Regions from separate parts of the Homo sapiens genome. Here region 1 is linked to region 2. The links come from fine-mapping of genetic effects on gene expression. A gene starts in region 2. The other region holds a variant in brackets. All regions are shown on one strand. Distances are from middle to middle.

Region 1 (17,687 bases), 55 kb before region 2:
CGTGGTCCAGCCCAGCTCTGTTTGAGCCCTGGCCTTCCTGGCCCACCATGGGGCCTTTCTGTGCAATCTACAATAAAAAACCATACCCGGTAGATTTATAAAGAGCACCTTGCAACCAATTGTTTGGGGCACCCAGCAGTGGTCTAATGTCCTTTTGCACAGACCCCAGTCCTGTCCAGGGTGGGAGCCGCAGGTGGCTCAGTTTGCATTGTCAACAAACACCAGCCACCTTGCAGGATAGAGGCCACAGCTCCAGGAGCCAGCCAATGTCAGAAGGTGCCCTCTGGCAGACAGGGCATCCTAGGGACCCTGCCTTCTCTCAGCCTTATCTTCCTTTCCTTCCCCTGGAGATTCTGTCCTCCAACCCAGACTGCAGCTGTGGCCAGAAGCAAATACAGGGAAGAAGCCAGGGTCACTTTCTCCCACTGAGTGAACAGGGGAAGCTGCTGAAACTGAGCCAGAGAATGCAGCTAAGGGCAGGGGGAGCTGGGTCAGAGCCTGTGAGAGGCCAGAGGGGAGTTGATGGAGTCGTGGCTGGTTTTCCAGGACTGGGAGAAGGTGAGGACTGGGTTAAAAAAGGCTTCTAGGGAAGGCAGCCCTGGAGCTGGAGCTCAGAAGACCTCTCAGACCTGCCAGGAAGACCCCTGATTTACTGATGAGGCCAGGTAAGACAAGCAAACAGCCTGAGTCCCCCACAAACAGTGCATGGAACCAGCAGAGGCCAGGGCTCCTTCCTCAACCCCTTGCTCTTCGTGGAGTCCACCTGCTCCCTGGGCCTCAGACACAGATGTGGCCTGCATGGGCCCACGGAGGACGTTCCAGAGTCCCTCGATGTGGCCGTCACAGGGGAGTGCATCTACTCAGGAGTGTTTGGGGCATTACCCTTCATGGATTCAAAGGTTAGGTGCCGATTCCACCTTGCCACTGGTAATGAGGAGCACAGAAGACAGATGGAGGCAGCTCCCATGCACAGTATGCTAATTCTCTGACCAGTGGACCAGGAAATGGCCGGTCATTTGTGAGACCATCGAGACTCAGAGATGCCGCCTTAAAGCTCTCTTGTCTGTAATGCCGTGTCCCCATTGAGGCTCCTTAGAGCGATCTCAGCAGCCAATTTCCAGAGTTCCAGGCAGCATGAGGAATGGGAAGAGTGATGGATGTGTGGGGCTTTCCGGGGAGTACTTTGAGGAGCCCTCCATCTGTGCTCAGGCTGCCCTGGTTCTCTGCATGCACTGGGTACCCTTGGGCTGGTCCCAGCACCTCCACTTCTGCTTCTGAGAAATTGAGATTGCTGTGCTCCGGGGCCTCCTCCAGGGCTGTGGCCGGGACCAGGTGGCAGGTACACAGCTTCGAGGGCCAGAAGACTCCTGAGAGAACAGAATTGTGGATGCAAATGGGCATTTCTGGACTCTCTGCTGACTCTCAGCCCCATCACTCTCTCTATGACTCATGGGGCAGTGGGCGAGGGTGGGATTTGCGGAGGTTGGTCTTCATATTCTGTGATGTGCTCCTGGCCCCTTTCCTTCTGATCACTAGTCATAGAGTCCTGTGCTATGGGAAAGCCGCCTGAACTGGGAAAGCCCTCCCTACCAGGATAACACAGGCCTGGAGAGCCTGACTTCGTGTGGAATCTGCAGGTGAAGTGTGTGTGTGTGTGTGTGTGCGCGCGCGCGTGTGTGTGTCCTGCTCACACTGATCAAAGTATGTAAGGGATGGAGCTCTGCAGCATTGAGGCCTTAATGTAAAAGGGTGTGCACTGTCTCCTGCGGCTCCCAAGATATCACCTACGGTACATGAAGTCCTTGCTGAACTAGCAAATTGGTGCAGGAAAAATTCCACTTTAAACAAATCTCTTTAAAATATGGACCCTCTCGTAATAAATGGTGGAAACAAAAGAGGTTTGATGTAGAGTTCGTCTTGAAACTTACAATTTGCCTTAAAATTTATGAAAAAAGATGTATCTCATTTTTAGACTAAGGCTATAATTGCACCTATAATCTTAGACTGAACAAAGAATGAATCGAATGTTAATTGGGAGGGGGGCATACGTTTTTCAGTACAAAATTGTATGATGGCTCACTCTGTGGGCCATTCTTTGTGGTTGATTTTCACAGCATGGTCTTAGAGTGTCATTTTTGCAAAATTATCCAAAGGCTTCATGCATTTTCACAAGGGCATATCTTCACCCACAGCACTCAAATCATTCTCTTTTGAGTGTCGACTGTGTCATCCCTCTTGCCCATTTTTTTCTTTAACTCAAGAATGGCCAGATCCTCATTTGTCAATGGCTTTTCATAGAATTCTAATGGCTCTCCAGCGTCATTTTCACAACTCCAAGAAATCCTGCAACTGTGGCACAATTTGCAGTTTCGTTTTGCCATCAATTTATATGGGCTTTGCAAAGTATTGTTGGAACATCTGACAATTAGTGAGACAGATAGTAAAGATGATCAGGGTTGAGCAAAGACAGCTAGAGTTCAGCAGAAGGGGACATTCCGGTGGGTGCTACTTTCATAGGTACTCGGTTCTTTAGTGAGCATAGCTTTATGATGGCTTTCACTGCCCTAAGGAAATGATCTGGATGCAGGTAATGAATCCTAAGATAATGAGGAGCCAGGAGTGTGGTGTTTCTCTTTTTATGCATCCAGAGCCTCTTTCCTATGAGAAAGAGCAGTGCAGGTAGCCTGCTTCATTTGGCGTTTGCTCTGCTGATTCTCTCTGGACCATATCTGGCAGGAGCCTCTGAAAAGAATCAACTCACGTCTAATGCAGTAGAGCTTTACCAAAACAGCTCCAGACCTAACTGCGACCTCCTTAAATTGAGTTCTGGTAGCCTTCCCATTATTGGATAGACATAAGGTTCAATCCAAGATGACACTTCCCTTTTGCCATTTCCCCAGGCCTCAAGGAGACAGCGGGCAGTACTTTGGGAAATTCATTTCATCAAGCACCAGTGGTCTTCCAGGTCTTAAATAATAAGAGTAACAAGTAAAATTGATTGAATACTTCCTTCCTTGAATACTTCCTAGGTACTGGGTATTGTTGGAAACATTTTACAAGTATGCTTTTATTTAATTCTCACTGTCCTTTTGGTGTTAATTTCATTTTAAAGTTGAGGAAATATAATCAAATTAACATGGGAACAGAAAAGCAAACACCACATGTTTTCACTTACAAGTGGGAGCTAAATATTGGGTAAACATGGAGGTAGAGATGATAACAATAGGCCGTGTGCAGTGGCTCACACCTATAATCCCAGCACTTTGGGAGGCTGAGGTGGGTGGATCATGAGGTCAGGAGTTCAAGACCAGCCTGGTCAATATGGTGAAACCCCATCTCTACTGAAAATTAACCAGGTGTGGTGGCTTACACCTGTAGTCCCAGCTACTCGGGAGGCTGAGGCAGAAGAATTGCTTGAAACTGGAAGGCGGAGGTTGCAGTGAGCCAAGATTGTATCACCACACTCCAGCCTGGGTGACAGAGGAAGACTCCATCTCAAAAAAAGAAAAAAAAAAAGATGATAATAGTAGAAACTGAGGACTATTAGAGGGGAATGGGGGCAATGGGGCAAGGGTTGAAAAGCTAACTCTTGGATACTCTGCTCACTTCCTGTGTGATGGGATCAGTTGTACCCCAAACCTCAGCATCACACGACATACCCATGTGACAAACCTGCATATGTACTCCATGAATCTAAAAAAAAGTTGAGATACATATAAATAAATACAAACAATAAAGGAAACACCAAAAATAAATAAATAAAGTCAAGGAAATAAAGACATAGAAAGATGATTGTTTTCCAGGTCACACAGGAGGTAAATTATGAACTGAGATTTGAACCCAGGCTGTCTGACTCTAGACCTCATCCTCATAACTAATATTGTTTTGGGGACTAAGCTGGTTTTTTCCTTCTGGGTTTGAATAGTGCTGGGGGTAGAATGGGGACATTGTGGCAGTTGCACATTCAGGATCATCTCGCTCCCCTCTCACACTGGGTAAGTGAAAGAAATGAAGACCCAGGACATCATGCCCAACTTGCCTGATAACTTGCCCAATGCAGTCTCCCAAATGAATAGCAAAGCGCAATTAAAACCTAGGGTCTCCTAAGACAAGACTTTAACAAGCATACTTGCTGTTTAATCAGAATCCATTTTTAAAATTCTATTCCTAAGTCAAGAAACTGTCTTTTAGGAAAGGCCACCCCAGAAAAGCTGTTGCCACTGTCTCAACAGGCACAGAGGTATTTTCTCAGAGATGCCTCATTTCTTGAAGCTGATAAAATAACTGGGTTGAACAGGCTCAATGCAGACTTTCCCCTACCATGAGCTCTTTTATAGCCACTAAAAAGTCACTTTTTGGGGGGCTTATTATCCCTCAAGATCTTGTGCTGTCCATTTGCATATGAAAGAGGAAGTTCATAAAAGCCCTTTCTTATTTTCTAACACGGGTTCAAATCAGAGGCCATTATCATCCTATAGAAAGACCCAAATGGCATATGGATCATTCTGAAGAAGGGGGCGAGCGCCTTTTAAGAGAATTGTTTTAGTTTTTGCAGGAAATTAATCAGAGGGACGGGCTTTGTGGAGCGGGGAGCAAATCTAATCTGTCCTTTGTTCGAATTTGCCTTGCTCCAATTCCTAGCAATTGTAGACAACATGCTCTTTTGTTTGGGAGACACTTGTTACATGCATAATTAGAGACTGCAGTAGCTGTGTTTAAAGAAAAACTGTTTTCCAATGTAATGTGTGATCTTGATAATAGTATTTTCATCAAAGGTAGCAATTACATTCATTAAGCTGGGACTGGCGTGGCGGCAAGGAAATTAAGTGGAAAGTGAATAAAAAGCTCCCCTCCCCCCTTTTATCTCCTTCTCTTTATAAGTTGAAATGCACCATGGTGAGCTGTAACTGGGAAATACATAGTGAATATAAAAAAATAAAGTCCTCCTTAACCTTTCTGAATAATGACCCTGCAGATATCCTAGGGATGGCAACTATAGATGCACTTTTCAAATTAAAGGGCTTTATTCTACCTTAATTTCCTATGCAAGTTTTAAATGAGCTCAACATATGATTCAGGTCTTTAAAGGCTGCAGGGCTCTTTAGGATTAATTCACTGTTCTTTTCACACATAAATTAATAGTTTTGTGTTCTCAAAAAAAAAAAAACCACAACAAGGCATAAATCAACCAGTTTAGGAGAGAAACAAGGACAGTTGCCTATTTTTAATTACCCCTTTAACTATTCATTTAGGTTTCCTTGTGCTTTAATTTTGAGGATATTATAAATGAAGTTCACACATTAAAGTGGAAAAATAGCCCAGGAAAAGAGTACCCACAGATTCCTAACTGTCACTGTGCTGCTGTGAGAAACTTATTCTGGAAAGACAAACCTATGTGAATATATATGTATACGTAGGCATGTGTGTATGTGTGTGTGTATGCGTGTGTGTGTACGTGTGTGTATGTGTATGTATGTGTATGTGTGTGTATGTGTGTGTATGTGTGTGTGTGTGTATGTGTGTGTGTATGTGTGTGTATGTATGTGTATGTGTGTGTATGTGTGTGTGTATGTGTGTATCTCCTCCAGGCAGATGCTCTATGCTTATTCCCCCGCATTAAAAGTCCTGCTTTAAAATGTCCTTGTAATTCCTCAAAGGGCTTGATGATTCCAATTTTATTCCACAGAGCACAGTGAGAGCCAGACATTCCTGGGCAAAATTAGGTGGAGACACGCCACCTCCTCTCAGCACCCTAGCTTCACCATTGACCTGAAATGCTTTCCGAGAAAATGAAACCAGTTCACAAAAATCAATTGGGAACCCTTATTTTGTGTGTGTGATTGGACACACACAGCTCTGCAGCAGGAATCATTATCTCTAGATTGATTGACCCAAATGTCATGCAGATCATCTTGGAGTGGAAGCCAAAGTGCTTGGACGGTTTCGCATTTTCTGCTGGCTGCACAGCTAGACGCGGCAGTGGCCTTGATGGCAAACCTCTAACCAAGTGGGTCAGGGTATTTTACCCTTGGCTAAAGGAGTTGCTGTAATTTGAGAAAAAGTGGGACTTCAGAAGTTTTACAACTTTACTTTCTGATCTGCTCATTAGCAGTTGCTTTGACTTTATTATGAGGCAGGAATGTTGAATGAGGAGCCAGGAGAGCCAGCCTGTGGCCCCAGCTGGTAATTTATGGAACGACTCAGTAGTCTGCTGAGGCTCATACACACTGTGTAACTTATACCTTACAGCAGCCTTTCAAAGTGGGCATTAGTGTCATGATCATGTCCCATTCACCCTTAAGAAAACAAAACCTTACAGAGGTCAAATAACCACAATCTTGGTCAGAATGTTTTTGTCCCCCTCCTCCCAAATCCCTATGTTGAAACCTAATTCCCAATGTGGTGGTAGTAAGAGGTGGAGCCTCAGTGAGGAATCCACCCTCATCAATGGGACTGGTGTCTTTAGAAAAGAAGTCTGAGGGAGCTTGTGGGCCCCTTTGCCATGGGAGGAAGCAGTGAAAAAGTAGCATCTATGAAGCGGAGTGAGCCCCCACCAGATAGATTCCTATCTCCCTGCACCTTGGACTTCCCAGCCTCCAGAACTGTGAGCAATACATTTCTATTGCTTGTAAGTTGCCCAGTATAAGGTATTTTGTCATGGCAGCCATGAGACACCCACTGCAGGTTGTACACTTAAGAGGTGGTGGCGCAGACAGCCAAACTCCAGCAGTCTGATGTCAATGCCTAAGCTCTTAGTCATCTGCTGTGGGAACTTGGGAGCAAGGGCCTTTGCCTCTCTGGGCTCAGATGCCTTCTACACAAAATAAGAGGGTAGCAAGCAAATCTTAAGAATAACAGGCGGGGACTGTCCAAGGATACTAAGACTAAGGCCGCCTGATCCATAAGCAGCTCTGAACTCTAGCTCTAGTTCTGTGAAAGAGTAAAATTCACACCCTACATCCTTTTACACCCTCAATCAGTGTGGCACCAACTCTGAGCCCTCAACCCAATAATTCCATGGAATACCTAACTCTGTGAGGGCTCTTTCCCCCAGGAGTTCTATCTGGGTTCTGGGGCCTTGCCCAGGGCCATGGTGTAAAGGAGCCTCTTGAGCCTCCATCACCTCCTATGCTCCTTACCTCCTTGAGAGAGAGGTCCCTTCTCCTGGCCCAGATGCTTTCTTCAGGCGAGCTTCTCTGCTTTCTTTGGGATGTGCCTGAGGTCCAACATCTTTCGCGAGGCTGGAGGGCTCTGCCCAGGACCCAGCTTCCTGGTGTCCCCCATGCCATTCCCTCTTGCCCTCTGATGCACTTCCTTGGGGTGCTAGTCTAGGCTACTTATGGGACCTGATCATCTCTCTCTCTCTTTCCCCAACCTAGGGAAATTTCTCTTTAATTTGGGGAAAATTCTTCTCTCCTCAGGCCTTATTCTTCACATGGGACTTAATTTCCTCCTTTCCTTTCAAACCTTGTCCTTCTCTATGGATTTAGACTTTTAGACAAAAGTCAGGAGGTGCTGCCACCAACCTCAATGGAGGCAAGAATCGTTGGAGCCCGCTTGAATAGGGAGAAGAGAAAAGGGAAAAAAAAGTAGTAGCTCCCCAAATTAAGCTTGCCATACTCCTTCAAAGCCCAAAGTTCTTAGAGACCATACAGCTTGCTTGGTCAGGAGCTCTGGGCACCACCTACTACTTTGAGGGAGAAACTGCTGCATCTTCAAGAGCAGTACAGATGGACAGAACTTTCAGGTAAAACAAAAATGCTAGATGTCTGTGCTGCCCAACATGGTCGCCACTGGCCACATGTGACTAATGAGCACTTGAAACATGGCTAGTATAACCAAGGAAAGGATTGTTCATTTTTAAAAATTTTAACTCATTTAAATTTAGATAGGTATTTGAAATCATAAAAATATAGATAATTTCTCAAATTGTTTTATAAAGAAATACAATACAAAACCAACATCTGATTAAAAGCATAAAGAAGAAGAATAGATGACTCTCATTATGAATATATATGCAATAATCCTCCGAATAAAATAGCAAAAGACCAAAAAATAACTTAAATAGACACACATGGCTGGCTGGTGGCCATTGTATTGAACAGCACATTTCTAGAGAAATGATGGAAGAGGAGTATAATCCAGCTTACATTTGAAAGAATGTCTCAGGCTGTTAGATAGAAAGTGGATCGAACAGTGGGAATAGTGGAAGCTGGAAGCCAGTTGAGAGGCTTATTGTGCTGTTCTGAGTGAGAAGTCATATCTTAGATCAGACTATGGTGTTAGTGGAGAATAAAGACTGGACAGATTTAAAAATTACTTTGGAGGTGGAACCAGTGGTGGCAGCCCACTGGTGACTGGGACCCAGGTGCCACACTCCACTCTGAAACCACATTTGGAGTTAAACCGACTCACCCTCCTTACGAATTGTTTTGGACCACTCATTAATTTTCATGGATGCCCTTGATGGAGGACATGTCTTCTTCCAGTGTGGACACCGTTTCAAGCCACGTGAGGTACCTGAGACAAGGATGGCACCCCCTCTATCCAAGTGGTTTATCAAACTGCAAATCCACTAATATGAGCTGGCAAATACCAAAGGTTGATTTTCCAAATGATGTTTTAATGTCCCCAAGCAAATCTTAGCTGCCCCCACTCGAATAAAGACAATGAGTAAACGAAAAGAGAAATCATTATTATGCAGCTACTCTTTAAAGAAAAAGCACTAACCAAACAGGGCTTCCTATCTGGCCATCCGTCTGACAGATATGTTTTCTCAGCACCTACTCTCAGCCTTTTTGGAGGCTGCTCCAGAAAGGGGCTGGGGAAAGAGAAGGTTCTTTCTATTTTACCCCAAATTAGGTAATTCCACCAAAGCTCTTCAGGGTTTGGCTTCTCTTCCCTCCTTCTGTCTTTTTGTGTTCCAATGGTCAGTTCCAGAAGTTCCATGAGTTGGCTTGTCTTTCCAACAGTTTCACATGGTGCCTGAGCAACATTTTGCAATATTAGTAATTCCCATTACTCCT[A/G]CATTATATTAACTCCATAGGTCTAGTTGTAACATGCATGGCACGTGATTGTAATTCTCTACATTAGCTGATGGACATTGAATGTAGAATTGTGAATAGTCTTATTTTTTACAAAAAATATTTAGTAACATTTAATTAAAATTTCAACTTGCCCATTGGTTAAGGGAAAGTTTGTTTCAGTCTCAAAATGCTCTTTATTACAAAATACACTTAAAATGCACTGAGCAACAATCAATAAACATATCCTTAGCCTTTGTCTACTTGGAAAAATCAATAGGGTTGGTACAATGGAGTATTAATGCGTAAAGGAACTGTATGTACATTTTACAGCGATGGGTTTCTGTTATAGACAGAATGTAAAATAAGGTAAGGCTCGAAGAGCTGTCCACTCAGCCAGATGTTCTCCCTTCAGACGTCCTGACCCTCCAAAGGCACCAAAACTTACATCCCTACTATGACTTCATCATTAGTTTGCATATCCAAAAGGAAAAAAAATCAATTTCTAAGAGAAATGGTTAGATTTCAAAACACCGCACCTAAGGTGATTTATCTTATCAGCAGTTTCTTCATTAACTCTTGAACTAATAAAGTAAAATCTCATTAAAGCAAGCCCCATGGAGGCTCCTATTTTGGGGTGGAGAACTGTGAACACATTGCCCTAAATTGCTTTTGGTTCCACCGAACTCGGAGAACAGTTGGTGCCTGGCTTCTCTGCCTCACACTGGGAGAGTGAATGGGGATCCGCAAGGACCTCTGACCTCAGGAGGATGGAGGGAAGGGGCTCGCCTGCTCCCCTTCTGCTTCTTCACTAAGCAGGTGGGTCTCTAGGGAGCTTGGGGTTTACCTCGTTGGTCCTGCTGGACTGGGGTGCTGGGGAGAAGTTGGAAAGGAACGTGGACTTTGGGGATGGAATCATTTTGAGCAACTACTCAAGTCTTAGTGTGCGATGAAAATCCCTTGGCAGGTTACTAAACATGCAGATTCCTAGGCCCCAGCCCCAAAGATAAGACTCATAGGTCAGGAAATGTGCCTTTCTACAGACATCTCAAGTGATCTGGGGGCAGAAAGCCCAGGAGATGACCAGTCCTTCCTGAGTACTTCATCTGACCTTTATACTACCAGACTTACGTAAGACTTCCTGATCTCTGTCTCCTACTCTCATCCTTCACCTGCATTTTAGACATAAATTTCCAAAGCCAGCCAGGTGCGGTGGCTCACGCCTGTAATCCCAGCACTTTGGGAGGCTGAGGCGGATGGATCATGAGGTCAGGAGTTCGAGACCAGCCTGACCAACATGGTGAAACTCCATCTCTACTAAAAATACAAAAATTAGCCAGGCGTGGTGGTGGGCACCTGTAATCCCAGCTACTCAGGAGGCTGAGGCAGGAGAATTGCTTGAACCTGGGAGGTGGGGGTTGCAGTGAGTCGAGATCGCACCACTGCACTCCAGCCTGGGCGACAGAGTGAGACTCCATCTCAAAAGTAAATAAATAAATAAATATAAATTTCCAAAGCCTGCTAGATAGATCTAAAAATAAACACTATAGCCAATGACTGGAACACTCTGGGAATAGTATTCCACAGTGTGCACTTTGAGGTCTCTTGGAGTTATTCTAAAAGCACAGTGAGGTTTAGAACCAATTGTATAGAGAATGAAGAGGCACAATAGCAGAGTCTTGATAAAAAAATTTCCATTTAAGGCCAAAGAAGCCAACGAAGAGTCAGTGAAAAAGAGGAGGTGCTTTGTCAAAGGAGCAGAGCCTGTAGGAAGATGAGGGGTGTCTGAAACTATATAAATTGGGACAAATATAATAGGCCACCAATTAAAGGTAAAAAGATGGCTTTTGAGAACATTGTTTTGGTTCTAAAGAGAAAGAGAAAAGTTATATGAACGTGGTCTCTCTCTTTCTCATTGTCTCATTGTCATACTCACCCTTCTTGTGATGGTGTGAGATGGTAAAATGTGTATGGGATAGGATGAAGTTGTGTGAATGGCGTAGGCACTGTGATGTGCCTACTAGTGATTCAGCCACTATCGACCTTCTGACAACGTCTCAGAAGATGGAGCCTCTGCTTTGTGTGATCCTAGATCACCAAGCATGACAATGAAGATGGCGGGATGTCAAGAGCAGACAGTGTTGATGACCAAGAAGGGGGTAGAGCAGACAACATGGATACGCTGGACAAAGGGATGATTCACGTTCTTATTGGGACGGAGCAGAATTGTGCAAGATTTCATCATGCTACTCAGAACGACGTGCAATTTAAAACTTGTATGTTGTTTGTTTCTGGAGTTTTGTTTAATATTTTCAGATCACAGTTGATGCAGGTAACTGAAACTGCGGGTAAGGGAAGACAATCATGTTTGTAGGTTGTAGCAGGGAGCCCATAGGGCTAGAAAGTCTACAAAGAAAATCAAGAGAGAATAATGGCTCAAGTTCCTAGGGGAAGTCTTCTCTCTTTCTCTTCTTTCGGTATGACATCAAGACAGACTGACCAACCTTTTCAGTCAAAATTTGATTTAGAGGCAATCATTTAATCAGGGGTTGGAAAACTTTTTCCTAAAGGTGCTAGAGAGTAAACATTTTAGGCTTTGTGGGAAAGTGGCAAAATTGAGGATACTGTACATAACTATATAACATTTAAAACATAAAAACACATTCTTAGCTTGTAGGCCATAACGAAAATAGGCAGTGGCTTGGATTTGGCCCATGGGCCATACTTTGTCCATCCAATTTAAACAAAGGACCTGTGTCCTTTGACTTGAGTAGAAGTTTTGAATTTTTCCTTTTTCCTTAATGCAAATGCTTCATGTTCAAGGAAATATTACATTTGAATACTCTGGGTCAAATCATAGAAAATCAAATCACAACTAAAGACAAGATCCCAATCCCAAGCCAGTGCAAATGGCCCAATTTATACCTGAAAGCAAAAAGCCCTCTCTGTGAAGTTCTGCTTGGCAAAGCAAGCCATGCATTGCTTTGCTTAGGACAAGCATTTAAACCTGAACAGTGCTATTTACCTAGGGAGGTCAAACCTTCATAGGTTTCAGATCTCTTTTCTGTGCTCTCTATGTCAGAGTCTACTCTCCCGTGAGGCTGAATAGAGCTGCCGATTTCACTGTGGCTATTTGAGAAAAGTAGAAAAATCAGTTAAAGGGAGAATGATGCACAAAAGTAAAAGATATCAGTAGCCTAGTAGGTTGTTTTAATTTTATATTTCCTATTACACAAGTAATACAAGAATATATTCCTAATATAAAAATTCAAATAGTATAGATGATGCTAATGACCTCCAGTGCCAGCACAGGCCCCCAGAGTTAAATGCAGTTATTGGTGTGGCAGTACACTTTCCACTTTTTTCTGTATTTTATTTTATTATATTTTAAGAGATGAGGTCTCACTCTCTTGCTCAGGCTAGAGTGTAGTGGCATGATCATAGCTCACTGCAGCCTTGAACTCCTTGGCTCAAGTGATCCTCCCGCCTTAGCCTCTGGAGTAGCTAGGACTACAGGTGTGCACCACTGTGCCTGGCTAATTTCCAAGTTTTTTTTCTAAGAATTTATACACCTTTGTATTTACAGAAATATATGTAGCTTTGTATTGTTCTGCACAAATACTGCGTGACTTATTATCTCCTTAAACAATATGACTTGATGATTTCATCTCCATACACGGATCTTCCTTATTTTTTTTAAACGGCTTTTGTGTGCGTTTTCGATGATTTACCTATTTATTCTCCTACTCAGCCATTTCTAACTTTTCACTACTACAAACCATGCTGCCCTGGATGTCCCTGACATGCCTTCTTGCACCCCCTCCCAGAAGCACTGAAGATTCAAGAGACCTGGGCTTGTCACATCATTGTCAATATTTGTTTTTTGTTTGTTTGTTTGTTTGTTTTTGAGATGGAGTCTTGCTCTTTCACTCAGGCTGGAGTGCAGTGCTGTGATCTCAACTCACTGCAACCTTTGCCTCCCAGGGTCAAGCAATCCTCCTGCGTCAGCCTCCTGAGTAGCTTGGATTACAGGCACGAGCCACCACGCCTGGCTAATTTTTGTATTTTACTTAGTAGAGGCAGGGTTTCGCCACCCAGGCTGGTCTCGAACTCATGATCTCAAAAGATCCACCCGCATTGGCCTCCCAAAGTGCTTGGATTACAGGCGTAAGCCACCATGCTCGGCCAACAATTTGTATTTTATATTTTTATTTATTAATTAATCCAGGTTATTTAAAGTCTAGGGTTAGTTTTTTGTTTGTTTTTGAGATGGAGTCTCGTTCGGTCGCCCAGGCTGGAATGCAGTGGTGCAATCTTGGCTCACTGCAACCTCCGCCTCCAGGTTCTCCTGCCTTAGCCTCCCGAGTAGCTAGCGGGATTACAGGGGCACGCCACCACGCCCAGCTAATTTTTGTATTTTTAGTAGGGACGGGGTTTCACCATGTTGGTCAGACTGGTCTCGAACTCCTGACCTCAGGCGATCCGCCCACCTCAGCCTCCCAAAGTGCTGGGATTACAGGCATGAGCCACCATGCCCGGCGTGGTTAGCTTTTTTATATCCTATCTTTTTTGTTTATATATTTACTTATCATTGTGTACAGTGAGTGCCGCCTGTAAAATTTATCTTTTTGGAATTTGTAGAAATTTTGAGACAAAATTCTAATGATCATTCATTTGCATTTGAAAAGAAACAAAAAAGTTCTATCAAACCTGTTAATTACGCCACCCAAATCCTCTACATCTGTTCTTACCTTCCACTTGACTTGGTGATTTCTAAGTCAGCAACTATGATTATGGCTTTGTCAATTTTTTTCATTGTATTTCTATTCGCTTTGCTCTATGTAGTTCCCAGTTATGTTGTTAGGGACATAAAGTTTGTGACTGCTGGACTTTTTTGGTGAACTCTTCCTTTTTATGACATATCCTTTAAAATTATTTTTGCCTTTAATTCCGTTTTGTTAGATATCAACATTGCTATTCATGCTTTCCTTTTTGTAGCATTTGTATGGCCTTTTTCCATCTCTTTATTTCAACTTTATTGTGCTGTTTTGTTTTAGGTGTTTCTAACTTTATGTAGCTGGGATTTAAATTTTTCGTTTGCACCATCTGAACATCTGAGTTTAACCCATTTGCAACTACAAATAATACTATGTTTGCCTATCTTCCCGTCTTATTTTCTACTTACCTTGATTTCTTTTAAAAAAAATAAGGTTTTTTCCTTATATTGTGAGCTATCTGTATAAATAATTGCGTAGCCACCACTCAGATTTCTATCATGATTTTTTGTCATTCTCCCCACCCTAGGGTAACTTTGAGTCTTTACTTTTTTTTTTTTCCTTTCTTTTTCTTTTTTTCTTGAGACAGGATCTCACTCTGTCTCCCAGGCTGGAATGCAATTACACCTAAATGTAACCTCGACTTCCCAGACTCAGGCGATCCTCTCACCTCAGCCTCCGAGTAGCAGCGGCTACAGGTATGTGCTACCATGCCTGGCTAATTTTTGTGTTTTTGTGTAGAAAAGGGGTCTTGCCACATTGCCCAGGCTGGTCTCAAATTTCCTGGGCTCAAGAAATTACTTATTTTTATCTTTTTAAGATCAAGAATCAAACATGGCACATAGCAAATCCCAGGCAAAACTCTAGAGTGAGATTATTTGGTATTTCCTTAGTTTTCTTTTCAGTGCTTTTCTCATCCTTCTAACTGCATCTTCCCATTGCTTTACCTACTCTGCCAGGTCTTCTCTCCAAACACACGTTTCCACCACACCCGTTCGTCTCGAAGGTCCCATTCTCAGCTAGTTTCTCTGCCTCAAAGTATCTGAAACTCATTCATGAAGAATTATTAATGAATAAAGGACTAGTTGGTGGTGGTATTTTACTGGAAGGCTCCTGAAGATAAACAAGACTTAGACCCAAAAGAATAAATCTAGGAGGGCCTTCATCAGCAAGACTGCTGGAGTTTGAGTTCCATTTCTGCCATCTATGAATAAGCATCTTATCTAACACCTCTATGCCTCAGTGTCCTTGCCTATGAAATGAGATAACAAAGAGCACCTCCCTCATAGGGCTGTTGTGAGTTAATATGTGTCAAGAGTCTAGAATCATGGCTAGCACATGGTAGGAGCTCAAGAGATGTCAGCGCTTACTGTTATCATTCTAATGGATGTAAAGAAATATTTCTTTATAGGGGTGACCTTGGTAGCTTTCTACTCAATCTTTCTGTGATGAATAGAAAAGACACCTGAATGGGCGCACATTTAAACAAGGAGCTGTTCTTATTCATGTTTGCATGGTGGCTCAGCGTCCACAGCACTTTGGACATAGCGACCACTCACTACATGTTGCTGAATGACAAAGGAAAAAAAAAAGGGACTAATACCTAGATTTCTAAAATGATGTAGAGGATAATGGGGAGAAGATAAGTTGAAATTTCCTATAGCCTTAGGCTACAGTGTACCACTGAGTAAAAAGTGCAATAATATACATTTTCTAAAAGTAACACTATAAAGCACAGGCATACATATCAGCCAGATAATATCTGTACAGCAAGGATACGCTCAAAAGAGGTGAACTCTCTACTGAAGAGCTGCTTATTTTGCCATTTAAAAAAAAGGGTCCTCTGGCAACATTTTCTTTAGTATCATGAATTTAAACTCAGTCTACATTATAAGACCTCTTCTCTGAAAACAAACAAAATTGGCTTATGTGAGAGGCAAGCTATTGGTTTGGTAAACAAAGATGTATATATCTTACAGAAAGATTACATTATTTTCTTATTTCATCTGTATGTATAACAAACAATTTTGCTTTATAAGAGTACCAAAAATCTCCAGTTAATTTAGTCCTTTATTTTTTTCATTCTCCATAGAATATTGGTTTTGTAACATCGAATACAATCCAATATATAACATTAAAACAATCCGATACATACCATTCTGCTTTATGAAAGATCAGCAAAAATACATAAACAAGGATATAACTAGTACATTTATAAAATACATCATAACAATGAAACCAAAGGATCCCACACAATAATCTTCACATTTGACATGCTGGTTACAGCTGAGGAGAGCCAGTGTCTTTGGCAAGTGATTCATATACATAAGCGATGACACTGACTAATCCTAACACTTCTGAAATGTTCATTCTTTACCAGTTAAACCTAAAATAAATCAGCAAGAGTACTGAAATATAACAAGAATGAAATCCAAAATTTGTCGAAAGGGGCAATGTTTAATACTAGGAAGAACACTGAATTTGGGGACTAATTCTTGTCCCCAAGTACATTTGGATTCTTGTCTTCGTTCCTGGATGATCTTAGGCAAGTAATCTGTGCTATGAATCCTTCACTTTTAAAATGAGAGAGTTGGTTGGCTGGTTCTCTAAGGTCTTTCTAGATTTTAACTTTCCATGATTTTAAAATCTTTGACACAGGCTTATTTTTGTGTTGTAAAATGAAATCTCTAACAATACTAACTTGGCAGTTGGGTGGAATCCAGTGCCACCCACACACATCTGCTCAAATAGTTCTTTATCTTCTGAGCCCCAAGACAGCCCAGTCCTCAAATTAACAATGATGGCAGGCTTCAGGAGGCTGATGGCTAGTTCTCCGCCAGACACAAATGCAAGATAGATAGTTTTAAAGCTCCTGAAGTCATGGTTATCAGAAGAAAAGCTATAAAGGAAGAACTACAGGGAAAACCTACAACACTCTCTTTGGAAAAATGACAAAATAACACATTTACTGATGCACTAACGGAAGAAGGTAGGTGCATATATTAACTATAACACATAATTAATTTTAACTGTTATTGGTGAATATGCACAAAATATACATACAAATTAGAACTTGATCAATAAATATAAATTCAAGGTCTAGATGCAAATGGGAAGCTCTCTGATGCTGGTAATTTGAACAAGAAGTTTATTGTACTTTCACATGTTTCTAATTCTATGGGAAGAAGTTGGGATTCCTTTTACTAATGTTGGCTTCTGCTCCATTATCTGTAAAGTCCACCTCTTTCACATAATCGCAGAAATTAAAGATGTCCAAGGCCCCTGTAGGGCATTTCATCCATGTCATACTCTTATCAGATGACTGTCTTTTTGTTCTGAAAGAGTGAATGAGTGGGTTTTCATCATCTCTCCATTTGAAAGTCAAGTAAGCTTTATCTCTTCGGATTCAAGGTCTAAATTTGTCCTTGTTTCTTCCTAATATTTTAATGTAATTCCTATGTCAATTGTATTTACACAATTTTTAATATTTAACTCTGATTTGCATTATAGAAATTAGTCCACTTCAATAAACATGAATGTGCAAAACAAAATTACTCTGGAAAAGTCAGGTTTTTTAAATAAACATTATCCTTTTATTAAATTACTAAAATGTTTCTCATATAACAGTAATGATTATTCTAAGCAACTGCATGAGCCTTGGAAGATTCTTCATCTCTAACACATGTTCCTCTTTCAGAAAATATCAAAACTCTCATTTCTCTGTTGTCCACCTTCCTCCTGAGGGGACTCAGGCCACACAGGGGGTCTCTTCTGACTGAGAATCCCTAATACTGAAGAAGTGGCATCACCAGTGATATGGTTTGGCTATGTCCCCACTGAAATTGCAACTTGAATTTATCTTCTGGAATTCCCACATGTTGTGGGAGGG
Region 2 (12,169 bases):
CCCTTCATTTGTCTATAAATTTGTTATGACCACAAGGCATCCCTGGAGTCTCTCCAAATCTGCTGTGGTTCTGGGGGCTGCCCAATTTGCTGCTCAATTAAACTCCTTTAAATTTAATTCAGATGAAGTTTTCCTTTTACCATAGCTTTAGCACTGGTCCACTTTCTAGACCCATTTCTGACCAGCTTCTAAGACACTTTCAGTTGTAAGTTTTATTAATACCTAAAACGTGTCTAAAACAGAATTACCTTTCTTCTGTCACCCTAAATTACTTTTTCTCCAGATGTCCCAATCTTTGCCTATCACTAAGCTATTTCATTTAGAAAATGTGTAGTCCATCTAATTCCTCCATTTCAAGATAATTCCCACATCTTCTCAAGTCTTCTTTTATTAACATGTCTTCCTTTCTGATCATCGGTGCTATCACCCTCATTGAGGGCCTTGTTACTCTAAAAGTGGACTTGTGAAATGGTCTAAGTGGGATGTGGCTTCAGAGTCTCACGTGATGAGTTCCTTTTGTGAGCTGCTGACTGTTTTATCTTGTAAACTCCTTTGCAAACAGCACCTTAAAATCTCAATGGCTGCTATTGAAATCTTTCAACAAAAATCTTTGAAACTGTAGATCAATTTCTATAGCCAACAAACTGAGTATGGCAAATAGTTTTAGAGAGAAAGTTCCCTACCAGGTTATAAGGAGAAAGGCCACCTTTCCCCTCCTTCATGGAGTACACTGTTACACAGGTCTACATCCGTGGTTCTCAGTCCAGTAATTTTGCCCCCACGGGACATTTGGCCATGGATGGAGACATTTTGGGTTGTCATAGCTCAGGCAAGCTATTGGCCTCTTATGAGTAGAGGCCAGGGATACTGCTTAGCATCCTACAAAACACAGAAAACCTGGTCTAGCCCTTACAGAGAATGAGTCAAGATAATGTGGGCCTTCTTAGACAAGGTGGCATGAGGAACAACAACAACAAAAACGACAATGTAGGCCCAAGACAGGGCAAGTGTGTGAGGATCCCGAGAGAAAGGAGAAAGACTCTTTGATGGTTGCCAGGGAGAGTGTCTTTATGGTTACTTAGTCTTCCTAGCACCAGAGAGAGATCAACGGAAGACAAAGATATATTTGCATGTGCAAAGTAACTGCCATTTCTGTGTTGAGTAGTAAACATTATAAATTCTTGTGTTTTGGTAAATAAAAGGGCTCTTCTCCAGGACTGTGGGCAACCCTGTCTGGGCAACACCCATGTAGGAACTGGCAGAAGAAATCCAGGCTTGCTTCACTCTGTGATTCTTTCTAGCTTCCTAGATTGGAGAAGCCAAAACTGCTTGGCAGCTATCAGCTCCTCACTGCTTTGAGATCAAGGATAAACTTAACCCTTAGGCAGTTACCATCTGAACCCATTCCACCCTTCTGCAAAACTGTTACATCACCTATAGTGGCATATTATTTCTTAAACAAGCTGAGCATATTCCTACCTCTACACCTTTGCGTGCACATTTCCTTGCCCTGGAATCCGCACCCCTCTGCTGCTTTACCTAAAACTGCTCCTTTGAATGGTCACTTGAAGCCCCATCTCCTATAAGCATATCTGCCCATATTATTTATTTAGCATTAGCAACATGCTATCTTCTACTGTTCTAAAATTCATTTTTAAAACAGATACCCTACCTCCCCAATTAAAAATGTAATTTTTTTTGATGTCAAGAACCCTGTTGTAAACCTACAGATCCCCAAAACTTACCTGTGTACTTTGCGTAAGGCAATGATACCCTAAAACATCCTATCAAAGTTATTGGTAATGTGTTCTGCCTACATTAATAGCTAGTGTTGTCCAGGCACAGTGGCTCATGCCTGCAATCCCAGCACTTTGGGAGGCCAAGGCGGGAGGATCACTTGAGTCCAGGATTTTGAAGCTTCAGTGAGCCATGATCTGTATCACTGCACTCCAGCCTGGGTGACAGAACAAGATCCTGTCTCTAAAAAACTAACTTAATTAATTAATTTTAAAAATAGCTAATGTTTACTGATTATTTATAATGAGTCAGCTGCTCTAAGTACTTAAGAACATTTATTATGAGTCAGCTGTTCCAAGTTCTCAGGTTAAGAGATGTGTCATTCCAAAGAGAAAGGCAAGAGGGTGAGAGAAGGTGAGAGTGAGAAATGAGGGGAGAGAAAGAGAGAGCAAGAGAAGGCCAAAGTTGTCCTTTAATGAGGAACTCATTCTCTCAAAAACAGCATTAATAATTTACGAGGCCAGTTCCCCTATTTAGAGGTGACAGCATGCTGGCAGCCCTCGCTTGCTCTCGGTGCCTCGCCTCCTCGGCCTCGGCGCCCATTCTGGCCACGCTTGAGGAGCCCTTCAGCCCACCGCTGCACCGTGGGAGCCCTTCTCTAGGCTGGCCAAGGCTGGAGCCAGCTCCCTCGGCTTGCGGGGAGGTGTGGAGGGAGAGGCATGGGCGGGAACCAGGGCTGCGTGGCGCTTGTGGGCCAGCTAGAGTTCCGGGTGGGCGTGGGCTTGGCAGGCCCTGCACTCGGAGCGGCCGGCAGGCCCTGCGGCCCCGGGCAGTGAGGGGCTTAGCACCCAGGCCAGCAGCTGTGGAGGGTGCGCCGGGTCCCCCAGCAGTGCTGGCCCACCGGCGCCGCGCTCGATTTCTAGCCAGGCCTTAGCTGCCTCTCCGCGGGGCAGGCCCCGGGACCTGCAGCCCACCATGCCTGAGTCTCCCCGCCACCGCCAGTGGGCTCCTGCACGGCCTGAGCCTCCCCGACGAGCGCCACCCCCTGCTCCACTGCACCCAGTCCCATCAACCGCCCAAGGGCTGAGGAGTGCAGGCACGAGGCGCGAGACTGGCAGGCAGCTCCACCTGCGGCACTGGTGCAAGATCCACTGGGTGAGGCCAGCTGGGCTCCTGAGTCTAGTGGGGACTTGGAGAACCTTTGTGTCTAGCTAAGGGATTGTGAGTGCACCAATCAGCACTCAGTGTCTAGCTCAAGGTTTGTGAACACACCAATCAGCACCCTGTGTCTAGCTCAGGGTTTGTGGATGCACCAATCGGTACTCTGTATCTAGCTAATCTGGTGGTGACTTGAAGAATCTTTATGTCTAGCTAAGGGATTGTAAATACACCAATCAGCACTCTGTATCAAGCTCAGGGTTTGTGGATGCACCAATCGGTACTCTGTATCTAGCTAATCTGGTGGGGACTTGAAGAATCTTTATGTCTAGCTAAGTGATTGTAAATACACCAATCAGCACTCTGTATCAAGCTCAAGGTTTGTAAATGCACCAATCCGCACTCTGTGTCTAGTTCAGGGTTTGTAAATACACCAATCAGCACTCTGTATCTAGCTAATCTAGTGGGGAGGTGGAGAACTTTTGTGTCTAGCTCAGGGATTGTAAATGCACCAATCAGCACCCTGTCAAAACAGACCAATCCAATCAGCTGTCTGTAAAACAGACCAATCAGGCTGCCGAGCCAGCAGTGGCAATCCAATCGGGTCCCCTTCCACACTGTGGAAGCTTTGTTCTTTAGCTCTTTGCAATAAATCTTGCCGCTGCTCAATCTTTGAGTCCACACTGCCTTTATGAGCTGTAACACTCACCGCGAAGGTCTGCAGCTTCACTCCTGAAGCCAGCGAGGCCACAAGCCCACCGGGAGGAGCGAACAACTCCAGATGTGCCGCCTTAAGAGCTGTAACACTCACCGTGAAGGTCTGCAGCTTCACTCCTGAGCCGGTGACACCACAAACCCACCAGAAGGAAGAAACTCCGAACACATCCGAACATCAGAAGGAACAAACTCCAGACACACCGCCTTTAAGAACTGTAGCACTCACCGCGAGGGTCCGTGGCTTCATTCTTGAAGTCAGTGAGACCAAGAACCCACCAATTCTGGACACACTATGACCCAAACACTTCCCATTAGGCCCCACCACTCAAAACCTCCGCACTGGGGATCAAGCTTCCAACACATGAATTTTGGGGGACACATTCAAACCATTTGTGTTCTCTCTACCTGGATGCCAAATATATGTCCAGAAAAAATACTTCTGGTTTTGTTGAAGAGCAAAAAGTTAAACAACAAGAATTATATGTATTTTGGCAGCTGCTGTCTGGCAGATGTCCAGAGAATTAACTGAACAAGAATTCACGTCAAGGATATTTGTCAAGAATCACCTCTTGGCTGGGTGCAATGGCTCATGCCTGTAATCCCAGCATTTTGGAGGGTGAGGTGGGAGGATCGCTTGAGGCCAGGAGTTCCAGACCAGCCTGGCCAACACAGTGAGACCTCATCTCTACAAAACACTTTAAAAATTAGCCAGGTGCAGTGACACATGCCTGTGGTCCTAGCTCCCGGGGAGCTGAGGTCAGAGAATCACTTGAGCCAGGAGTTCAAGGTTACGGTGAGCTATGATCACGCCACTACACTCCAGCCTGGGCAAGAGAGTGAAAACTTGTCTAAAAAAAAAAAAAATCATCTCTTAAAAGACATCAAGCGGCCTGGTGTGGTGGCTCACGCCTGTAATCCCAGCATTTTGGGAGGCCATGGCGGGTGGATCATGAAGTTAGGAGTTTGAGACCATTTCCATCTTGCTGACCAAGATGGTGAAACCCCATCTGTACTAAAACTACAAAAATTAGCCAGGCAAGGTGGCAGGCGCCTGTAATCCCAGTTACTCGGGAGGCTGAGGCAGGAGAATCGCTCGAATCCGGGTGGCATAGGTTACAGTGAACTGAGATCGCACCACAGCACTCCAACCTGGGCGACAGAGTAAGACTCCGTCTCAAAAAAAAAAAAAAAAAGATATCAAGCTACATTAAAATGCTTTGGAACCACAGGTTAACTACAAGGTCCAATTCTCCACTAATTGGGTTGCTTAGACCAAATGGGCAGGACAGTTCTAATCCATCTGCAGGACTAGGAGAGACCTTCTGAGAAGGCAGGGGTAGGCTGAAGGTCAGCATTGCAATCTGATTGTTATGTGACTTGGGAACACTGGTTATTGCCTCCGAGTTCCTCATTTGCAAGATGAAGCCACTAATATACCTACTTCAGAGGTTTACAGGAAGAGTAAATAGGGTAGTGGGTGTAAAATGCTGTCCCTGGTCTACAATAAGTGAGTAAATGCTAGCTTTCCATTTGCCTCTGGATAGAAACCAAAATTAGCCCTACCTTGCATTTCTCCCCACTCCATGCCACTTGTGTCCACAGCCATCTACCTACACTGTGGCATGAGGAAACTCCAAAGCTCTTGACCTTCAATGGCTCCTAACAATCCAAAAGGATCAACCCCCAATTCCCTAAAGTGGCCTCAGTCCCCTTTTGTTGCAGTTTTCTGACCACTCCTTTCCCCTCCTAAACTCTAACCCAGCTTCCAAAGAGCCTATCACTTCCCCAATGGTCCTAGTCATTTCTATCTTCTGAATCTGCACGCAGACTGTAGCCCCTTAGGATTTGTTCCACACCTACATGACATGGGGTTAGTTGCACATAGTTCTAACCTTTCCTCTAAAAGATAAACTTCTTGGAGGTAGAGTATTTTATTCATTATTACATCTGGCATAGCACACAATGCTTCGTGCATGGCAGTAAGAGCTGATATTTACCGAGAGCTGACTACATTCCGAGCACTATTCTAAGTGCCTTACATGAACATATGAGCTCATTTAATTTTCACAACAATTTTGGAATACGCACAATTATTCTCTCCATTTACAGACCAGGAAACTGAGACCCAAAGCATAACCTGTCCAAGGTTATACCACTAGGAAGTGAGAGGGCCTGGGTTCAGATCCAAGCAGCCTAGCTACAGAACCTACGTTCTTAACCACTATGCTACAGTCGATGTTCAATCAATTTAGCTAATTTATGTAAAAGAGCTTCAAAAACTATAAAGGACTATAAGCCACAATAAACCAAAAGTTCAAACAAAATAGGTTTTTGATATCTCTAAGGACGGGGAGACAGTAGTATATGAAGGTTAAGTTTAGAATCAGACCAGAGTTCGAATACCACCAGCTCTATCCCTTTCTATCTGTGGGCAAGCTATTATTCTTTTTCAGCATCTGCAAGATTAAACTACTTGTTAAGATGGTTGTGAGAATTGAGATGACTCAGGTAGAACGAGAACGTGCCTACCACAGAGTATGCGGTCAATAAATTTTGGCTCTAAAACAGAGTCAAATTGTAAAACCAAAGAAATTTTCTTTGCTAAGTTATTAACCAACAATTATAAACAGTATTAAACAATAATCACTTACTGTTTTTTATTGCACTTCAGGCCTGTAAAACAGTCAAATAACATTAATTATCTCTAATAAGAAAAAGGGTCAGAGTTCTGCCTCTGGGCATAAGACTGAAGCAGCAGTTGGAAAGCCTAACTCATTAAAGCAAATGCAAAGGAAACATTAAAAGCACACGTAAGCAGTGGGAAAATTCCCAGTGAAGTGTACTGACAAATACAAGTGTATCCAAATGTGTATGTTCTGAAAAGCATGCTATATAATAGGTCCAAGGGGTGAAGAGCATAGGATGTTAACACAGGGGCTGTTAACAGTTTGTGTGGGTGCACAGATAAGAATTAAGCACAACAAGAGGCTGGTTTCAGCTTAAGTTCATGGAAGAGGGACCGGCACCGGCTCCGGCTCCCCTGGGCGGCGGTGAGTCTATCCACGGAAGATACCCAGGCTCCAGACATGAGATAAGGGGCAGAGGGAACTCTGTCCCTGGCCGGGAAGCCCGAACAACTCCGAAGTCCCTTACTACCTTTGAGCGGGGCCGCGGAAGGAAGGACAGGGAGACACCTGCTCAGAATGAGACTGGGCCTATATTTTAACTATCTTTTTTGGGGGAGGGGGTGTGAAATGTAATCACTCGGGAAAGGTGCGTTAGGGCATCAGGGAGGTGACATCTGTGCAAAATGCATCCAGAGATCCAGAGATCCAGACTCGGTGGCTCTCAGGACGCAACGGCCTGCAAAGGACATCTTGCGGACGCGACCCTCCGACTCCACTCAAGGTACTTGCTCCGCCAAAGCAGCTTCTAGACAGCCCCGACCCCCTTGCCACCAGCTGCCTCCACCAGAGGCCTGAAGGGGGTCGGGGTCATAGACTGCCCGCGGGTAAAGAGTCTGGGGACCCAGGACGTGGAGCGGGGCTCAGGCCGGCGCCCCGAGGCCCGTTAGAAGGCTCTGCCAGCTGCGATTCCAGGGGCCAAGGTCGCCCTGGGCCCCCAGGACGCCAGCCTCGAACGCACTCACCAGCCTGCTGCCGCGCAGCAACCGCACTGCCAGGCCCTCCATCCTCGCCGCAGGCCTCTCCGCTCTGCGCCTCTGGGTCTCTAGCCAGCCCCTGGGAGTTACCCGAGCAAGGCCCCGCCCACTCAGTACCCGCCCCGCACACACCCCCCCTTAATCCCTGCCCCCTGCTGCCTACGGAACCCCAAGAGAGACAAACAGGCCCCTCCTCGCTTTCGCCCTCCATCCTGCTCACGCGAGACTTGAGCAAGGCAGGGGGGCGGGAAGGGAGTCGGAGACACAACAAAGATGGCGGCGGCGACTGTGACGGTGACGAAGACGGCGGCGGCGGCGACGGCATTTAACAAGGCGGTGTGGTTTACTCCATGCAGTTGTCAGGAGGTAAGTAGCAGGCTGCCGGCTCGGACGGCGGCGACGCGGCAGGACAGGGCGGATAAGAAGGAGCGGCCGGAGACTGGAGCTGGGTTCGTGGCGGGCCGGCTGATCCGGACGGAGACTCAGTTCAGTGGAGGGTCGGGCGTGGTCGGTAGGCGGGCAGGTGATGGCCCGGGACCTCTTTAGCCGGAGGGCAGTGGACTGCGGCGCCTATGGCCGCGAGAACCCCGAGGGAGCGGGGTCTCCTGCTGTCATTGCCTTCGAGCAGGAGCTCGGAGGCTCCGGGGCGGGGACTGTTGCTTGGCTCTGACAGGTGGTTCTGCGGGAGGCGTCCCGAGGTTTGCGTCTTCACGGGGTCCCAGGGGCTGGGAGTCAGCCGGGCGCGGGTCTCCTAGGTGTTTCGAATCCTGGCGAGGATGTCGCTCCGAATCTTGGTGAGGCTGCTGCCCCGACGCCGGTCCCAGGCTGATTGTTGGGAGAAGGACGTTTAAAGCCTTCGTATTTTATCTAATGATCCTGCCCGGATCCGTCTCTACTGCATGGGCACCCTTATTTTAGGAACATGTGAGATTTGAGAAAGACATTGTAGCAAATAACTATTCAGGTTCATTCGGGGTTTAGATCTTTGGATAAACTGTGTGGAGCGCGAGTAGCCAAGCCTAGCATGCTCGATGACTGGATCTGAAGCTAAACAAGTTCTAGCAAACACTAACCACGTGGCCTGCTTAGAGTCCCCTTGATGTGCTGGTCAGAACCCGAAAGACGTGTGACAAGCGGAAGAAGACATAAAGGCGTCTTAAATTGTGTGATCTGAGGAAATTCAGTTTTGAAAGAACAGAATGTATTTAAAACAACTTTTTTTTAAACGTAGGAACTAACAATTTTAAAAATTCAATTTAATTTTGATTTATGTCGTGTTGTCACAACAGCTAAAGGTTATTATTATTGATGAGAGTTCGTTACAGTGAATTGAAATGTCTGGTGTTATTTTCCCCTAGCGGTCCAGGATGTTTCCCAGAAAACCGTAGCTGTTTTGTGTTATGATAGGATAAGAAGGATGGGATTCAGATGTGCCCTTATCGGGTGTGCATGTTTTTTTTGTTTTTGTATTTAAAGCCCTTTCCCATTTCCCTACTTAGGACTATGCGTTGTTTTTATGCAACTACAGCTGTTCAGCAGTACTAAGCTTGACCGTTTTGGAAGTGTGCTGTGACTAAATGAAGTTAATCTTAATTTCTTTAAACTGAAGTTTAACTTAAATTTAGACATTAAAAATCTTGCCAAAAACTAATCCACCAGTGAGAAAACGGTAGTCACACCAGTTATTCTTTGGTGATCCTATGGAGCTTTTGCTGAAGTGAAGCTACTGCTTTGTTCTTTGATTAATCTGTCAGTTCGTTTTCTTTTCAGCTAATGTAATGATAAGATTGGCATAAGTTACTAGCTCATTCAACCTGTAGATGCTAATTAAGTTTTTATCTTAAAGGTTTTGATTTGTGGTGTGCTGTTTGTTTTTTATGCAGACCTCTGTATGGCTTTTCAATTTTAGTTGAAATTCTCTCTCCATGGCCTTTTGGAGTCCCTTGCTGTATCTCCGAAGTAAATTTCAATTACTCTACATTTCATCAATGTTGGAGTGGCAAGAAAAAGGAGGAACAGATTTGGGGTGAAAAGGTTAGATTGTATAATTTCTCTTCTGGATTTCTTTCAACATGGTTTTACTTATGTTTTATTTTTATGTTTTGATTTCTGATTTCTCAGAGCCTCATAATTTCTTTTTTTGCCTTCAAGAGTTTTTGACAGTTCTGAAATCAGGAATTGTGTTCCAATTATTTTGGAAGGCCCATGTTACTCCATAGAAACCAATCCTTATTTGTCAACGTTGTCTGTTTATATGTGTTCTATAGCAGAGTAAATCTCAGTGACCATAATTATTAGGCTATGGAGGGTAAACACATCTATTGAACTGTAATCACTTTATGTGTATAGGCCTGCCTTACCCATAAATTATTATGTAAGTAAATTAGTTGCTAATATTGTATTCTTCCTTATGGTTACCTATGAGAAGTAAGACTTCTCATGAATGCTAGGTGAACGAAACATATCCTGCTGTTCCCTAATCATGTTCTCAAAATTCTCCCACAGTTTATAAAAAAGATAGAAGGAAGAAGGAAGATAGGTTAGAGAGCTTCTTCTCTGGTTGTTTCATAGTTGTGAATGCCTTCTAATTTGCATTTCAGTGCCTGTGTTTTAAATTATTAGCTACTGGTTAAGAGGCTGGGGGGGGTGCACATATATACACACATGTAATTGTGTGTGTGTGCTTGTATATATGCTTGCATTGATCAACAGCTTCCCATTTATGAGACTGAAGAAGAAAGATCAGACGACTTCATACAAAATAAATCCTTTATCAGAAACCAAGGAAGATCGGAAATTAGCCTAAATTACCTACTTGAGGTAGAGGTTTTCCTGTTCTTTGGGATATCAAAGCTTAATTCTCTTATACCTCTTTTCCCCCTACCGGCTTGCATAGCCTCTGGTTGTTTTCTGAAAGCATTGATTTTGAGCCTTGAATAATAAATTGGGGGACGCTACTGGCATGACAATACTTTAGGTATACCCTAGCCAGTTTCTATATAGATATCCACCTACACCCCATGGAATTCCATACTATATTCAACTTAACTTTAATCAGAATAATCACAGGAAGGATTTGGGAATTTTGCTATATCATAAGGAACAATCATCATAAAGTATGGGGATATTGTTCTCTTTGGTTGATATGATTAGATATCTTAGTTCAGGTTGCTGTAACGAATTACCATAGACTGAGTGGTTTAAACAAACATTTATTTCTCACAGTTCTGGAGGCTGGGAAATCTTAATATGAAGGTGCCAGCAGATCAGGTATCTGGGGAGGGCTTGCTTTCTGATTGTATCCTCTCATGGCAAAGAGCAGAGAGGAAGCAAGATCTCTGGATCTCTTCACAAGGCACTAATCCCATTTAGAGGACTTCACCTTTACAACCCAATTATTTCTCAAAGGCCCCACTCCAGATGCCATCAAATTGGGGGTTAGAATTTCAACATATCAGCTTTTGGGGACATAAACATTCAGTCCATGACGATACCAGCAGAAAGAGTACATCTGAGTTGTAATAACACCACCCACATCTGTAATAATACTGGAGAATACTTAAGTATATTTCTTGTTCAGATGACATGATATCATACATTGAAATTTTGTGTTAAGTAAGTAATTTTTTGGCTAACAAACACCAAGGTATTGAGTTCATGTCCAGTATAGGAAAGATACCACTAAAAAAATTATAGCTTGTGGATTTTCTAAAGTATATTTTGTTATGTTTGCAAAGGTTTTAAAATTTATCAATGCCTTAGAGGCATCTCTGGGTATCAGTTAATTTGTGGAGTTCCTAGATTAAACTTTGAGACTTGAGACTGATGATAATTACATCAAAGACAGGAAAATGGCTCAGATAGAAAACCTTTATTTTCTTTCTATAAGAGGAAGTCTTTTGTAGTTCCAGAAATTTTTTTTTTCTTTTAAAAATTAGAGATGAGGTCTCGCTCTGTTGCCTGGACTGGTCTTGAACTCCTGAGCTCAGGCAGTCCTCCCACCTTAGCCTCTGAAAGTGCTGGGATTGTAGTCATAAGCCACCATGTCCAGCCCAGTTTCAGAATTATTACTATTTTTCAATTTATTATGCTTAGAAATATTGACTTGAGATGTAGAAAGCTGAGTTTTGAGCCGAAGACTCTACTTCACTTTAGGCACCTTTCATTCATATATGTCTCTACTATAGACTAGGGCTTTGCAAGCACCTGTCATACCCTGTGTATATGGATATATGGGATAGAGGCCATACAGGTCAAGTGGGCACAAAAATGCTTAGGGACGAAATGACACCTAATTTTTAAATCATGACAGGATGTTTAAGGTTATAAAGCATACTAATATATTTAAAATTCTAATTTAAGAAGAGTTTTTCTTCATGTTTGCAATGTTACAGTGTTCTCTATTTCATAGACATGCTTTTTTTTTTTTTAAGTTTATCATGCATTGTGGTTGAAAAGCAGCACACAATTTATGGCAAGGAACACAGTGAAGTTTATAATGTGACAATGTGATAATAGCCAAGACTGTCAAAATATGCCAGCCATCCTCTGTAATTAGGCTCATTTGTGTTCTTAAACTTGAGATGCATGTATAAAAATATCATTTTCTTCTGCTTGCTTTCTGGCAGTCTTGTGTGTTTTTACTGCACTGTCACGTTGTACTGTAGCAACGTTATGCTTTCTAATCAAGATTTGGTAAGGATTATCTTGCTTCCAGAAGCCTGTCAAAGTATATTCAGACATTTTCCAGGAGAAATGTATAGTTTTCATGTGAACTGATTGGCAAGAAGTGATGCTAAGTTACAATGTAAATACTGGGATTTCTTTCTTAATTATAGCTTTTATAATTAGAACGCAGACAATCTGTAGGGCTATACAGCTTTTACAAATTAAAAA

What was found. PIP is the estimated chance that this variant, and not a neighbour inherited with it, causes the effect.
Region 1: its variant is fine-mapped to the expression of ACADSB in whole blood (TOPMed, PIP 0.95).

What each region holds. Positions count from the first base shown.
Region 1 is chr10:123,056,454-123,074,140 of GRCh38, reverse strand. It overlaps ACADSB (acyl-CoA dehydrogenase short/branched chain), which reads right to left. Exons shown (of 11, transcript NM_001609.4): 11 at 15,851-17,687. Among named protein-coding and RNA genes, the nearest start is that of ACADSB, 56 kb to the right of the region's middle. RefSeq lists an enhancer at 3,923-6,203. The variant A/G (reference allele first, on the strand shown) is at 9,027.
Region 2 is chr10:123,004,164-123,016,332 of GRCh38, reverse strand. It overlaps ACADSB (acyl-CoA dehydrogenase short/branched chain), which reads right to left and starts at 7,327. Exons shown (of 11, transcript NM_001609.4): 1 at 7,262-7,327. The coding sequence starts at 7,303. IKZF5 (IKAROS family zinc finger 5) reads left to right here and starts at 7,538. Exons shown (of 5, transcript NM_001372123.1): 1 at 7,538-7,639; 2 at 9,157-9,307. RefSeq lists enhancers at 7,422-7,751, 8,032-8,261.